2 linked regions of the Homo sapiens genome follow. The protein of the gene in region 1 interacts with the protein of each later gene in a biochemical or structural test. Each region holds a gene or a part of one and is shown in the gene's direction. Other genes may lie near its edges.

Region 1 (7,419 bases):
ATATTGAAGCCAAAAGAGCTGCAAGACAGGACCCTCCATCAGAAATGCTTATAGAGGGACCCCTAGTGTGGGGTAACCCCCTCCAGGAAACCAAGCCCCAGTACTCAGCAGGATGAATAGAATGGGGAACCTCATGAGGACATACTTTCCTCCCCTGAGGATGGCTAGCCACCAAAGAAGGAAAAATACTTTTGCCTGCAGCTAACCAATGGAAATTACTTAAAACCCTTCACCAAAACTTTCACTTAGACATTGATAGCACCCATCAGATGGCCAAATTATTATTTACTGGACCAGGCCTTTTCAAAACTATCAAGCAGATAGTCAGGGCCTGTGAAGTGTGCCAAAGAAATAACCCCTGCACTGCAGGCCATACCTTTCAATCCCTGTACCTTTAACCTCCTTGTTAAGTTTGTCTCTTCCAGAATCGAAGCTGTAAAACTACAAATGGTTCTTCAAATGGAGCCCCAGATGCAGTCCATGACTAAGATCTACTGCAGACCCCTGGACTGGCCTGCTAGCCTCATGCTCCAATGTTAATGACATTGAAGGCAACTCTCCCGAGGAAATCTCAACTGCACAACCCCTACTACACCCCAGTTCAGCAGGAAGCAGTTAGAGCAATCATTGGCCAACCTCCCCAACAGCACTTGGGTTTTCCTGTTGAGAGGGGGGACTGAGAGCAGGACTAGCTGGATTTCCTAGGCTGACTAAGAATCCCTAAGCCTAGCTGGGAAGGTGACTGCACCCACCTTTAAACACGGGGCTTGCAACTTAGTTCACACCTGACCAATCAAGTAGTAAAGAGAGCTCACTAAAATGCTAATTAGGCAAAAACAGGAGGTAAAGAAATAGCCAATCATCTATCACCTGAGAGCACAGCGTGGGGGACAATGATCAGGATATAAACCCAGGCATTTGAGCCAGCAATGGCTACCCTCTTTGGGTCCCCTCCCTTTGTATGGGAGCTCTGTTTACACTCTATTAAACCTTGCAACTGCAAAATATATATATATATATGAAAAATAATTATAAAATTGGTAATGGAGAAGCATGGAAATAAGTGGGACTGAGGAATAACATAAATGGACTACTATTTATTTATCATTTTATTAATATTATTTTTTAAAATAATATTAATTATTATTATTTATAATTTTATTATATTTATCATTTTATTAATGATATTATTTATTATATCATTTATTATTTATCATTTTATTAATCATTAATATTAATGTATTATTTATCATTTTATTAATATTAATTTGATTGTATTACTTCTTTTTGCTTCATTTCTCTAAAAAATAAAGCTAAAAAAGATGGCAAGATATTATCGCTGTAGATTCTAGATGGTCAACCTATACTTGTTTGTTAAATGTTTTCTGTATGATAAAGATAATTTATTACAAAAAGAAAAGCAACATGACTATGGAATTATTTCTTATTTTTATTTTTATTTGCTACCACAAGAAATGTGAACTCTGATACATTGTGAACAGTTCAGATCTGCAAAATTATCACCCACAAGCTGTTTGAGTATGATTTATGGTAATTAATTGAAAACATTATCTTAATTTTTTCCCAAATGAACATTTTGTATTATAACTAGCTTATTCTAAAAGAAAAATCAATAAAAAGCAATAGCCTTTTTAAAATACCCAAATAGATAACGTTAGAAGAGCAAACATGATATGAACAGGGAACTCTTCCAAGATCAATGTGAAAATTTGAAACCAAATAAATATTAACACAGTTTTCTGATAAAAATTATTGCCTCCAATAACTGCACAGGTCATATGATAGTTACTGTTCATGGCTTACGTATAATTGACCAAATTTCAGTAGCTATGTTATCAGCTTTCCAGTTCTTTGATGTTAATAACTTCCCTCATTGGCCTCAGGGGCTTTGAAGTTTTGTCCCTTTTTCCTGTTTTATAGTTGCTCAGCACCTAATCTTATCCCTTTCCCAATTCTTCTGACAGTGTTAGGATAAGATGAAAGGACCAAAGTGGCATTCTGGACATCTGGTTAATATATCTCAAAGGGGTGCACTTTAGTGATAAATCTCCAGTGAGATACAGTTCAAGGCTATTTTTGACATGGACCCTGCTGAGCCATCTTCCAGGAAACCTCTACATTTTACCATCCTTGAAACAAATATATTAGGCTCCTGCAAAGAGATCAGTTTTCACTTTTATAATTCTAAGAATGACTACTAAGTCTTATCTGCAAATATCTGATTCAGAAGATAATAGGGATAAAAGTACAAATTGGACATCTTTTGGCAAAGGAAGCTCCTTAAAACTCAGCCTTGGTTACATCAAGAATAAGAATTCCTGTGTCATCCCTAAGAAGTAGATTTTTATATAACTCAAAACCAGCTCAAGAAATATAATATTTAAACAAACTTCTCAGTGCTTGGTTAATAAGCATTGTTATGAAGAAACAATGAAAAATAAAACAAAAACAACTCAACTTTAGTGAGTTTAGTGAGTGTCATTGCAAAGAAAATTTCACATTGCACTTAGGGATTTTATAACCTTAAGGCTTATTACAAAGGTCACACTATTTCAATTAAGAACAAAAGTGAGTTTTAATAATAAACTGTCAGCATTTCAAATCTTCTCTCCTAGGTATCTTGAAATATACAACATATTGTTGTTAACTATAGTCACCCTATGTGCTATCAAAAGCTAGAACATATTCCTCCTATCTAGCTGTATGTTTGTACGATGAACTAAACTCTTTTCATCTCCCCTCACCCGTCTCAGCCTCTGGTAACTATTCTACCCTCTGGTTACCTTCTACCCCGTACCTCCATGTGTTTACATATTGTTGTATAAATTTTGTGGAAAAAAATCCTTTTTAACAAAATAATCTGCTGGCTATATTTCTTCTCATATTATTTGAGGAATTGCATTGAATTTTGGGTACTGAATTTTGAGGACGTGAATTAAGGATGAGCTACATCTCATGACCTCGTCACAGACCCCTACTATAAACATCTGCATACAAGTTGGCATATTACAACAATAGCATGAGAGTCAGGGTCTGTAGAAATTCCCAGCCTAACTTTTTCCTGGACTGGCCAAACTGAACCTGAACCAGTGTATGGGCAATGTAGTATGCTTGTCAGAGGCACCAAACTGCTAACTCAAAAATAAACATGACTAAAAGAACTTCTCCCAGTATACCCATATGAAGCTGACCATTTGCCCAGTAAGAATGCAATGAAAAGGGCTTTTAATGTACAGCCAAATGGCAGTCCAGCAAGGAAGCTCATGAGCAACCTACAAGTAGTGAGCATTTTGATGTAATAGAGACTTACATGCAATTCAGAATTATGTTTACAACATCACAAAACAAAAATTTAGAGATAGGCTCTCACTCTGTTGCCTAAGCTGGAGTGCAGTGGGATGATCATAACTTACTGCAGCCTTGAACTCCTGGGTTCAACTGAAGGTCCTCCTACCTCAGCCTGCTGAGTAGCTAGGACCACAAGCACACACCACCGCAACTGGCTTAAATTAAAATATAAATTGTAGAGATAGGGTCTTAATGTGTTGCCCAGGCTGCTCTTGAACTCCTTGCTTCAGGTGATCCTCCCACCTCAGCCTCTCAAAGTGCTGGGATTATAGACCTGAGCCACAGCACCTGGCCAACTGACCTATGATTTTACACAATGGCTGCTCTTCCCTTCTTTAACTATTATTCATTCTTCTTTGATCCTCATTATTTGACTGTAGTCCTTCTTATGTCTTGTTTTCCTTCATTACCTCTTATTCTATCACATTGCCATTGTCATTCTCCACTGGGGAAGCTCTTTCTTGCTGAAGACTGGAAAGACAAGTCCATTCACCTGATTTTCTGTAAGATTGTGGCTCATGTATTGACTTGTCAGACAATTCTGAAGTTTCATCAAAATTAGCTATCATGCTTGCATAATGGCCCTGAACCCTCACTCCTACTCTTAGCTTCAGTACCATCTATGTCCTCAACTGTCCATGATACTTATAATTCCCGTAAATCTTCACTTAACACCTAACATTTATTTAATCTTACTAGGCAAGGTAATAAGAAATACATAGGTTTGCCTCCAGAAGTGGGTTCTTAAGAAACCCACCAGAGGAACTCCTCTTTCAGATGTCCACATTAGAAGATTTCATATCACATTTGGTGCCACAGGCCTTTGACAAGGAGGATGCAGAGGAAAAAGCAAACTTCACCTCTTCCTAGGGAAAGTGTTGGCCTGCCAACAGGAAAGAGGCAACATCTGGGAAAATCCCCAGTCTTTGCCAGGAAGAGTCCATGCCAACCCCACCCCATGACCCCTGTCCTGCCTACTCATTGTCACTCTTCACTCCAATGTCCCTCCCCCAGATCCTCTTATAAAATCCCACTCTTTCCTGACCAGACAAACCATACCATATCCCACCAGAGAGGTAAGTGGGAGCTGAGAGAAGATGAGACCCAGGGAGGAGCTACTGCACATGACACAGGAGAATACATGGGAGGGTCCCTTCCTCAGGGAGCACAGGAACTCTGAGACTCAGCAAGGGTGTCCTGGGAGGGCTCGGGGATGGGAGAGTACACAGATTCACAACTCATTCAGAACTGTAGAAGATGATGGATGTGACCAAGATCACTTTAGTCCTAGGGGACTAGAGAAGGAAAATGACATGAGGCAGTGGGGTATCTGTGTGTTCTCCCACTGACCACGCTTTCTTTAGTGACTCCTGATTGCCTCCTCAAGTCGCAGACACTATGCTGCCTCCCATGGCCCTGCCCAGTGTATCTTGGATGCTGCTTTCCTGCCTCATGCTGCTGTCTCAGGTTCAAGGTGAGATTGCTTTGCCTCTAGCACTGGGTTCCCTATGAATCCTCAGAGCTAACAAGAGGAGGAAGGCTCCTGTGTGTCATGTGAGGTAATGACGTGGTGTCTAATGAACCTGCCTGCAGTTCTTGCATCATCTCTCCTTCCTTCAGGTTAACTTGCAGTGGGAGGCTCCATGGTGGTCCACTAACAGTGGAATGAGATGGCTTCCATTTAGTCAGTGGACTCTAATATACACTGGTGGGAAAGTGGACTCTAATATACACTGGAGGGTCAGTAATGAGATGTGGGGAGGGACAATGATTGGAGGACCCAATGTAGAGACAGCCCAGAGTGAGGAGAGTATTGAATGGTTGAATAAGGGGAAAGGGTAATAAGAGACTGGATGGTGCTCCATTTACTACGGCTATTTTGAGATAAAGAATTTCTGAAAACATAAGGGAAGATGAAGGGGTGTCAGGAATGTGGTCTTCCTCCCCAAGGACATTCCTAGGTATTCCCCAAGGTCATCTCCCACCCCAAGCCCCACTCTTCATTTTACCCTCCCCCCTCTTCTTCCACCTCAGGTGAAGAACCCCAGAGGGAACTGCCCTCTGCACGGATCCGCTGTCCCAAAGGCTCCAAGGCCTATGGCTCCCACTGCTATGCCTTGTTTTTGTCACCAAAATCCTGGACAGATGCAGATGTGAGTGGTTAGATGTGGTGTTGGAGGTGACCGGTCTCAGGGGGAGGAGGGTCTCCATTCAGGAGAGTTCCTTGGGAATGAGGATGAACACGTTTATCTTTCACACAGTCCTCCTCCCACCTACCTTTGCCCTGCCCTCCCTCAGCAGGTCTCAGGCTCCCTCTCATTCTCTTTGTTGCCCTCAAAGCTGGCCTGCCAGAAGCGGCCCTCTGGAAACCTGGTGTCTGTGCTCAGTGGGGCTGAGGGATCCTTCGTGTCCTCCCTGGTGAAGAGCATTGGTAACAGCTACTCATACGTCTGGATTGGGCTCCATGACCCCACACAGGTGCCAGTATATCCTCCCCTCTCTGTTACCTCTCAAGGTGCTATTGTTGCCCAGGCCCACTCCCTGTCCCCTGTGCCTGCCCAGGAAGTACTTCAGGGAGCACTGGAGCTCAGATTCTGGGGAATATTTGGGGGGAAAGGGAAGGCCATGAAGCATCTGAAGATCTGAGTTCTGTGGAGGTCTCTATCTTTCAGATAAAATCAATCTGCCTTCCTCAGGCGTATTACATAATTCTCATATGAGGCTGGGTTAACAATTCTCTGAGCTTCATGGAGTCTTTGCCTACTATTCTGAAGGAACTCTTAATGAAGATAGGATCAATTTTTGTCCCCATACAGAACTGACATTACTTTTGAGGTTCACAAGCTAATCACAAATGCTACATCAATTATTGTTCTGCAAATAATATATTACCTTGAGTTGTTCCAAAGGTCTTATGTTTATTGGCTGGAATTTTCCAATAGCAATGAGGAGTCAAGGAAGAGTTTCCTACTCACCGGCAGCATCTGGAATAGCAGACCAACTTTCCTCATGCTGGGGAGCAAATCAGGTGTTGCAGCTAAGGGGCCATGCAAGAAGAGCTGCAATGGCCATTCCCTTCACCTGGCTACCTCCTCTACTCTACAGGGCACCGAGCCCAATGGAGAAGGTTGGGAGTGGAGTAGCAGTGATGTGATGAATTACTTTGCATGGGAGAGAAATCCCTCCACCATCTCAAGCCCCGGCCACTGTGCGAGCCTGTCGAGAAGCACAGGTAAGAAACAGAGGAGCTGCCTCTTCCCAGTGTTTTCCATCTCATCCCCCATTCCTGGGTCTGACCTTCAGGAAATCTTCCTGAGCTAGAAAATACAATGTTAGTGTGTCTTCTCTTATCTCCTCTCTTCTCCACTTTCTTTGAATCTCTCTCCTGGATTGGGACACTGGTGAAGGTGAGGGAGAGGCTTTAACTTCTAGGCTAAAACCTGGGATGCCCCTTCATTGGATTCACAAGCTTCCTCAGCCCCATTCCATTTATGTCTTCTGTCTCTCCAGCATTTCTGAGGTGGAAAGATTATAACTGTAATGTGAGGTTACCCTATGTCTGCAAGTTCACTGACTAGTGCAGGAGGGAAGTCAGCAGCCTGTGTTTGGTGTGCAACTCATCATGGGCATGAGACCAGTGTGAGGACTCACCCTGGAAGAGAATATTCGCTTAATTCCCCCAACCTGACCACCTCATTCTTATCTTTCTTCTGTTTCTTCCTCCCCGCTGTCATTTCAGTCTCTTCATTTTGTCATACGGCCTAAGGCTTTAAAGAGCAATAAAATTTTTAGTCTGCACTTGTTTGTCTTGTATATGCCAGTGTCATAGCCATACTCTGAGAAGGACAAAGTGTTTGAGTGGAGGAAACTTTATGGGTCTTGCTTCTTCCCTATTCACCCAGGCCTCTAGGGAAAATGATGAAGTGTGCATCCCTACCAGTGTGTTATGATGAGGGTGTGGGTCCTGCTCATGTAGGATTTGTGTTGTGGAGAGATGAGGACATTTCTCTCCCGCGTACTTACTGCCCTCCCATTCCCGTAGCCCAAACC
Region 2 (7,025 bases), on another chromosome or scaffold:
ACAGCTCTTTATTGTAGTTCTTCCCCAGTCCTTTATTATTATTATGTGTGAATCACAGGAAAAGGGAGGGACGAGGTAGGCAGCATGTTGAACATGCTCAGTGACATACATTTTGAGGTCCCAAGTCCCTACTTTTGGAGCTGTATGATTTCAGGCAACAATCTCCTGGGTAGGCCCTGGAGATTGTTGAGATGATTAGATGAGCCAATGCTTAATAAAATGCTAAGCACAAAATGCCTGGCACGTAATAAACACCTAACAGCCACAGCTAATCCTTTTGAACCCGAGGCTGAATGGTCTGATGTCACTCATGTTGTGGGGCATGACAGTGCAGCAGAAAGAGCCCACACTTAGGTGTCAAGAGCTTCGGGCTCCAGTTTGGCCACCAGCTAGACCAGAGGACTTTTGAGCTACTTTGCTACTCTGGTGTTCTGTTTCTTCATTTGTGAAATAAATCAGTGATCTTGGTGACTATAGTGTCCAGTCAAGCTCTAAAATTGTATGTTCCTTTGGGCTAGACCTAAGCCAGAATTGACAAGTTTAGCTTAAGGACAGGTATATCATCTCTGAGTGACTGTGTGGGTGACATAAATTTTTAGCTAATTATTATTTCCTTTACAATGTGTGTTGCTAGTAATAAAATAGTTTACTGAGTCACCTATGGAAAGATAAGCTACAGTTATAGCCTTTTTGGCACTTTGTAATCATCATAAAAGTTAATATACATTTGAGTCATAATTGGAGTTGGACTGCCTTTACCGTAAAACAGGAGGCATCATCTAGATGTTTGTTGTCTGTGATGTGATACAGAAATGTATTATTAGGCCACATGGATATTTTATTTTTATGTTCAAAGGCTAATTTTCTGAAAGTTGGGTCTGGGAGTCTGAGTTATCCATAATTAAGTTTTCTACCTTCTGCTTTCGTTGTTAACCTGAGTTAAAACCATAAAGTAAATTCGACATTTACTAATTTGAGCTTTAATTATTTTGACCACTGTGTTGGTTGCACTGGTTGAAAGCATGTGCAGGACCTCTGCTTAGTAGGTAAGGCGTTGTGTTTTTTAAACAAGGCTTTGAATTTCTAAATAACAGATTTCCACACTGGCAGTTTGAAACATGGTATTTGTTCAGTGTAGGTTTTACCTACATGAGAAAAATCAAACAAATAGATTTGTTCAGTTGCTATCCTACAAATTGTCTTCGCTGAGAAAATGGACAGGTTTGTGATGTTTCTGACTACATCAAGACTCTACTACACTTGATCTTTTGTGTATTGAATTAACACTTGTTCTTGTCATTTTTATTACAACTACCGTATAAGTTTGGGCTGAATCATTTTATCAAACTCTAAATTTTTATCATCAAATGTGGAAGGCCTAAATCACCATCGCTGTCCTCAATTTTCCAACCTAAAGGTGTTTATTTCCTCTTAGGGGTATAATACGAAGGAAAGTAGTGTCACCAGATCTCTTCTTGGTGTTTTTGTATTGGTGCCTGGGGTTTGGGTAGAGGAAGCAGCAGCAGCAGCTGAGACTAGAACTGCAGCTGAGGCCACTTGGTAAAGAACTTTTTTCCAGGCTAAGGACTTTTGTTTTGTTTGTTTGTTTGTTTGTTTGTTTGTTGTTTGTTTTTTGAGACAGAGTCTCCTTGCTCTGTCTCCCAGGCTGGAGTACAGTGGCGCAGTCTTGGCTCACTGCAGCCTCTGCCTCCCAGGTTCAAGTGATTCTCCTGCCTCAGCCTTGCGAGTAGCTGGGATTACAGGCACCTGCCACCACACCCGCCTAATTTTTGTAATTTTTGGTAAAGGAGTTTCACCATGTTGGCCAGGCTGGTCTCAAACTCCTGACCTCAGGTGATCCGCCCGCCTTGGCCTCCCAAAGTGCTGGGATTACAGGCGTGAGCCACTGTGCTAGGCCCAACTAAGGAGTTTTTATGTCATCCTCTATGTGGCAGGGAGCCAATAAAGGCAGGAGAGTGATACGATGATGTTTGAGTTCAAGAACAGTCCCTCTGCATCGAATGGCTTCAAAGACACGGACGTGGGCAGTGACAAGGTCAGGAGGCCTTAGTCCAGGTCCAGGCCCAACATGATGAGTTAGCCAGAGCCGGGGGGCCAGAGGCAAAGGGGTGGAGATAGGAGACAAGTATGTATCTTGCCTTCCTTCTAGGCATTGTGGGTTTACACAACTGAATCAGATGCGCATTCTCCTCTGGGAATTTCATCTATGGAGGCAGTGTAGTGCTTCAGTTTCCCTGGCTGAATGTGGCATTACGCAGAACCCTCTATCTGTCTGCCGCACATTTTCCTCTTGGTCGTACCTTGTTGCTTTCCACAGCCTTCCTTTGCTCTCCTGTATTCACATCTTGCATCAGCCAAAAGGGAAAGGTCTGAAAGACCAGCTTTGTTTTTCTCCCAGCTTGTACTCTGGACCCTGTTAGCCAACAGTATTGGCACTGCCTCACAGCGATGGTCAGTCCCAAATTAAACAGCCTCGTTATGACACCCTACAGCCAGGCTGCAGCTCTGGACTTGTGCTTCTGCACGTTTCCTTCCAGTTGCTTTCGTCCAGCGTCTCGGTCCCATTGAGTAAGGGAGTGTGTGCAGAGTATGTCCCGAGGTTTTCTCCTCAGTCAAGCAGACTACATTTCGCCAGGTGTAAAATCGGTAGTTTCGAATTCACCCCTTTTCATGGCCTTGAGGAGATGCTTGTCTCCTTGTCCCAAGGGAATATTGGTGCATAAATCATTTCCCGTCCTAGGCATGTTCATTCCAGAAACCTTTCAGAACAGAGTGTGGAGTCTTCATAAAAGGAATTTGTCATGAGCGCAGGGGTTTTTTTTTATTTTTTATTTTTTAAAGGGGAAGGCAATAGAGGTATTCATTATCTGCTACAGAGTGAAAAGGGCCCTGCTTTATGTTAAATTGGACTTCATGGAAAGATATTGGTAATTTCTCCTATGTTCTTTGTGCTCCTGAAATCAGAGTGGGAGAGAACTTTGATTTCAAAATTATTTTCACCACCCTGGATCACAGAGAAACACACTTTTGGCTGCCTTTAAACACATTAAACATCTGGTCAGCCCAGAGACCACCCGGGAGCCCTGTAGACCCCAAGTAACTGAGTGGCTGAGGGTAAGCCAGCTTCTCTAGACACACCCTGACTTCCACCCCAAGTCTTGTTGAAATACAGGCCTGACGGCTGTCCCAGGAAGTCAGTTGGCTTGTCAGACTGCCAGTGTGGTTGAACGGTGAGGTGGCTAGAATTCTCTGGGAGGCATTTTTGGCCCATCTGCCTGGTAGCATGACAGATGTGTTAGTCCAGACAACTGGGTCATCGAATGAATTGAAATTCAATTTACACATAGGGATTAAGTATCTCAGTATTACCCTTGCCACATCAAACTTCATTGACAGAGCCAAGAGGAAAATGAAAGTCATTCAATGTTAAGAAAAGGGAAACAAGATTCTAACATGGAAAGGGAATATTTTGCTTACTTTTAAGACTGTAGGTTACTTAAATAGATGCAATGCAAGCTATAGGAGGTTTGGGGCAGATGGTCTCCTAGGCTTAAAATGGAGAGATTTTAAACTACGAGGATCCTGGAGGTCTTGTGACATGTAACTCTGAAACCTCAGTCCAAGGCCAATTTGGTTTAAGTAATCTCAGTCAAATATTTATTTTGTGGCCATGCATTTTGAGAGGGACAGAGAACACAGGTCATTCAAAACATGCCTTCAATGAGTTGTACTCTGCTGAGGGGCAAGAAAAATGCACATGAAACAATGAAAAGTAACAGTGAGGGTTTATGTCTTAAACTGTTCATATGCTACAAAATCCTAAAATAGTACTTTATAATTAGGAGGTGTATAAGGAGTGGAGAAGTCACAGCCTGTTTCATAGTAGCCAGGATTTGAGAGAAGAAACCAGGAGGTCCTCCAGGGGAAGTAAATGGGACAAAGTTTAAGACAAGCAGGACGGAGAATGGCTTTTTCATGGGAGCACGAATGGTGGTTCAACCCAAGCGGTGTTTACTGAGCATCTACTATATGCCAGGCACTGTGACTGGGGGAGGGAAGCCTTGCCTTTAAAGGAGCTGAGAGCCTAAGAGGAGGCAGTTGATGATAGAGCTGTAGAACACAGGGCTCCTGACACAGTTCACAAGCTTTGGGAATTACAATCTGGAATGGTGATAGCCTTGGAAACCAGTGAAACAGGGTGGCGTCAGATTGCAGAGTTAAGCTCTGACCATTCTACTAGAAAAGTTGCAGCACACTCTTGGCTCAGGGTGGTCCAGGCCACTGGAACACCAGTCCCTAAGGTTTCAGTTCTCAGAATCCACCAGTGTGATAGCTCAAACAAAATAGATTCCCATGCTTTGCTTTCAGTTGGCACTGAGGCCTGGTGGAGAATGTGGGCTCAGGTTTAAAGTGCTTTAGCCTTGCTAGCCAGCTGCTGAAACCTGAGAAAATAAAGTGGTACTGTTACAGAGGGTTGGACCTGTCCTCTTAGGAAGGTTCCAATCACAGCGACTGCTGGAAGAGAAAATTTTATTTTAAGATTAAATCTAATGAAAGCCAGTGTAGTAAGGGAAACATTATTTTATAATTTCTGTTAAGAGCAAACATTCTATATGATTTTTAAAAATAGAGCAATAATGAGTGTTGCCTGTTTCCAAACAAGCGTTGTTTAAAAGCTGCCTGTCTGCTTTATTATTTTTTTCCTGGGCTTTTGCGAGATAATGGTAGTAAAATATCAATTTACTAAAACCATTTTTTAAAGTCTTATACCTCTACTCTGTCTCCAGTTCATGCAAGTTCTTCTTTTGGCAGGATTAGGTTGAATTTTAATACTAAACTCTTACTGAAGAGTTAAGAAGCTGTGGAACTGGTATACTTAGTGACTGATCCCTCTCCATATTAAGCGTGTGATTTGCTATTACCAGTTGCCAGTAATAGAAAAAGAATGTGCTCGTGTGGGTTTATCTGTATTTGTCATTAAGGCTTTGCTAAGCCAATGAGCCCTAGAAGCAGGCGTGCAGTGGGCTTTCTCCCTGTCAGGTGAGCCTCACGGGCGCTGCTCCTCTCCGGGCACTGTGGCTGGCCTCAGCACAGGTCTGGGCTGGGGTAGAAAGGCCTGCATGGCCTGAGGACCCAGGTGACTGGGGATCTCTCATCTGTAGCGGTAAAGTTCTGAGTATTGCCAGGCCTGCAAGCACTGGTAGGATTTGATGGATCCCTGGGTGATTATTTAGCCTAAGCTAAGCCGTAATACCTTTGCATACATCCCCAAGAAAGTCCTAAGTGTTTTGTTCCCTTTCCAGTAAGGGAGTGACAAAGAGAATGCCCAAGATGGCTTATAACTAGCATTGGGATGGCTGAAAGTCAGGTAAGTTTAGTGGAATGCAACAAAATAAGCCCAAGATAGGAGTTTAGATCTCCGAAATGTTTTCATTCTACTGGTTTAAGCTGTGTAGGCTTCCCTTGCAGGTTATTAGTCCGTGCTCACCTCTCAAATTGCTGTTAAGTTGTCAGGGTGCCTGAGGAAGACTGTGGCCAGAGATGTGGATTCAGACTACTGTGGGAGTGGGAGGGGTAGTCACTGCAGTATGTACCTGAACAATCAGATATACAAGTGTGTTTCTTAATCTCTCAACATCCTGACTCCCTTGTCTTTCCTTTCTCAGAGAGCAGAGCTGACATCTGATAAAGACATGTACCTTGACAACAGCTCCATTGAAGAAGCTTCAGGAGTGTATCCTATTGATGACGATGACTACGCTTCTGCGTCTGGCTCGGGTAAGGTGGCTGCTTCTAAACACTGGACCTCATTCTCCAGGCATGCACGCACACACATTTTACTGTGCTTACTTCAAGGAGACAGGCAGGATGCACAGTGGTTAAGGGCACCGTCTTTGGAATCAAAGGGCCTGGGTGCTAATTCTAGCTCTCTCTGCCACTTACGCTGTGAGATCTTGAGAATTTATTTGCTGAGCCTCAGTTTCCTCCTTTATAAAATGGAAAGTAACAATAGTCCTTACCATAGAGTTGTTGTGAGGATTAAAAGGGAGTTGACACATCTAAAGCTCTTAGATTTGGGGGCTTGGCACATAGTGCTCTGTCAACATTAGCTTTTAATCGTATTAAGACTTTCAGAGTGATGTCATGGAAACCACCCTTCAAGAAATCCCTCAAACACTGGTTTCATAAAACCACCTACCCTATGTTAAAAATTGTAGATGAGACCAAGAAGTTAATACGTTTTTATTCCTAGGGTATTGTAGGAGGAAAATGCAGCAGCCAAGTAAAATGATTATGTAGTGACATGATCAGATTCCTTAGTATATTATTCCTTAATAGTTATCTGTTACCACTCTAAGGCTACATAATAAACCACCCCAAAACTTGGTGGCTTAAAGTAACAGTCATTCATTTAACTTATTATTCTGTAGGTTGGTGATGTAGGCTGGGCTGGCTGGGCTCCCTCACATGTCAGTGGTCAGCTGCCGGTTGAGTGTACAGCTTTAGGTTGGGTTTGCAGCTTTCGGGTACTCATATCCCTGGGGCAGCTGAGCAGACTTGGGTTCTGTTCGTGTGGTCTCTCATTCTCCAGTAGGCAAGCTATTTTTTCACAGTAACAGCAAGTAGAAGTGTGCAAAGCCTCTTGCAGCCAGGCCTTAGAACTGGGCACAGCATCACTTTTACTACATTTTACTGGTTGAAGCAAGTCAGAAGGCCAGAACAGACTCCACCTCTTAGTGAAAGGATTCATAAAGTCACATTTACAGAGGATATGTATACACGGAGGATTAAGGGATTCTGGTCACATTTACAATCTACCATAATTGATGAATATTTCCCCTGTTCTCAGAATGGCCCCTGTATGAGTTCATTCTCACCCTGCTAACAACACAGGGACTGGGTAATTTATAAAAGAAAAGAGGTTTAGTTGACTCACAGTTCAGCATGCCTGGGGAGGTCTCAGGAAACTTACAGTCATGGCAGAAGGGGAAACAAACATGTAC

What was found.
Region 2: the proteins of REG3A (region 1) and SDC2 form a complex in vitro, tested with the Homo sapiens proteins (one study listed by BioGRID).

What each region holds. Positions count from the first base shown.
Region 1 is NC_000002.12:79,156,754-79,164,172, reverse strand, and holds REG3A (regenerating islet-derived protein 3-alpha precursor), read left to right. Parts: upstream 1-4,419; 5' UTR 4,420-4,445; exon of another isoform or gene 4,446-4,733; 5' UTR 4,734-4,767; coding exon 4,768-4,843; intron 4,844-5,403; coding exon 5,404-5,522; intron 5,523-5,709; coding exon 5,710-5,847; intron 5,848-6,474; coding exon 6,475-6,601; intron 6,602-6,879; coding exon 6,880-6,947; 3' UTR 6,948-7,167; downstream 7,168-7,419. UniProt on the Homo sapiens protein: Acts as a hormone in response to different stimuli like anti-inflammatory signals, such as IL17A, or gut microbiome. Secreted by different cell types to activate its receptor EXTL3 and induce cell specific signaling pathways.
Region 2 is NC_000008.11:96,587,793-96,594,817, forward strand, and holds part of SDC2 (syndecan-2 precursor), read left to right. Parts: intron 1-5,687; coding exon 5,688-5,799; intron 5,800-7,025. UniProt on the Homo sapiens protein: Cell surface proteoglycan which regulates dendritic arbor morphogenesis.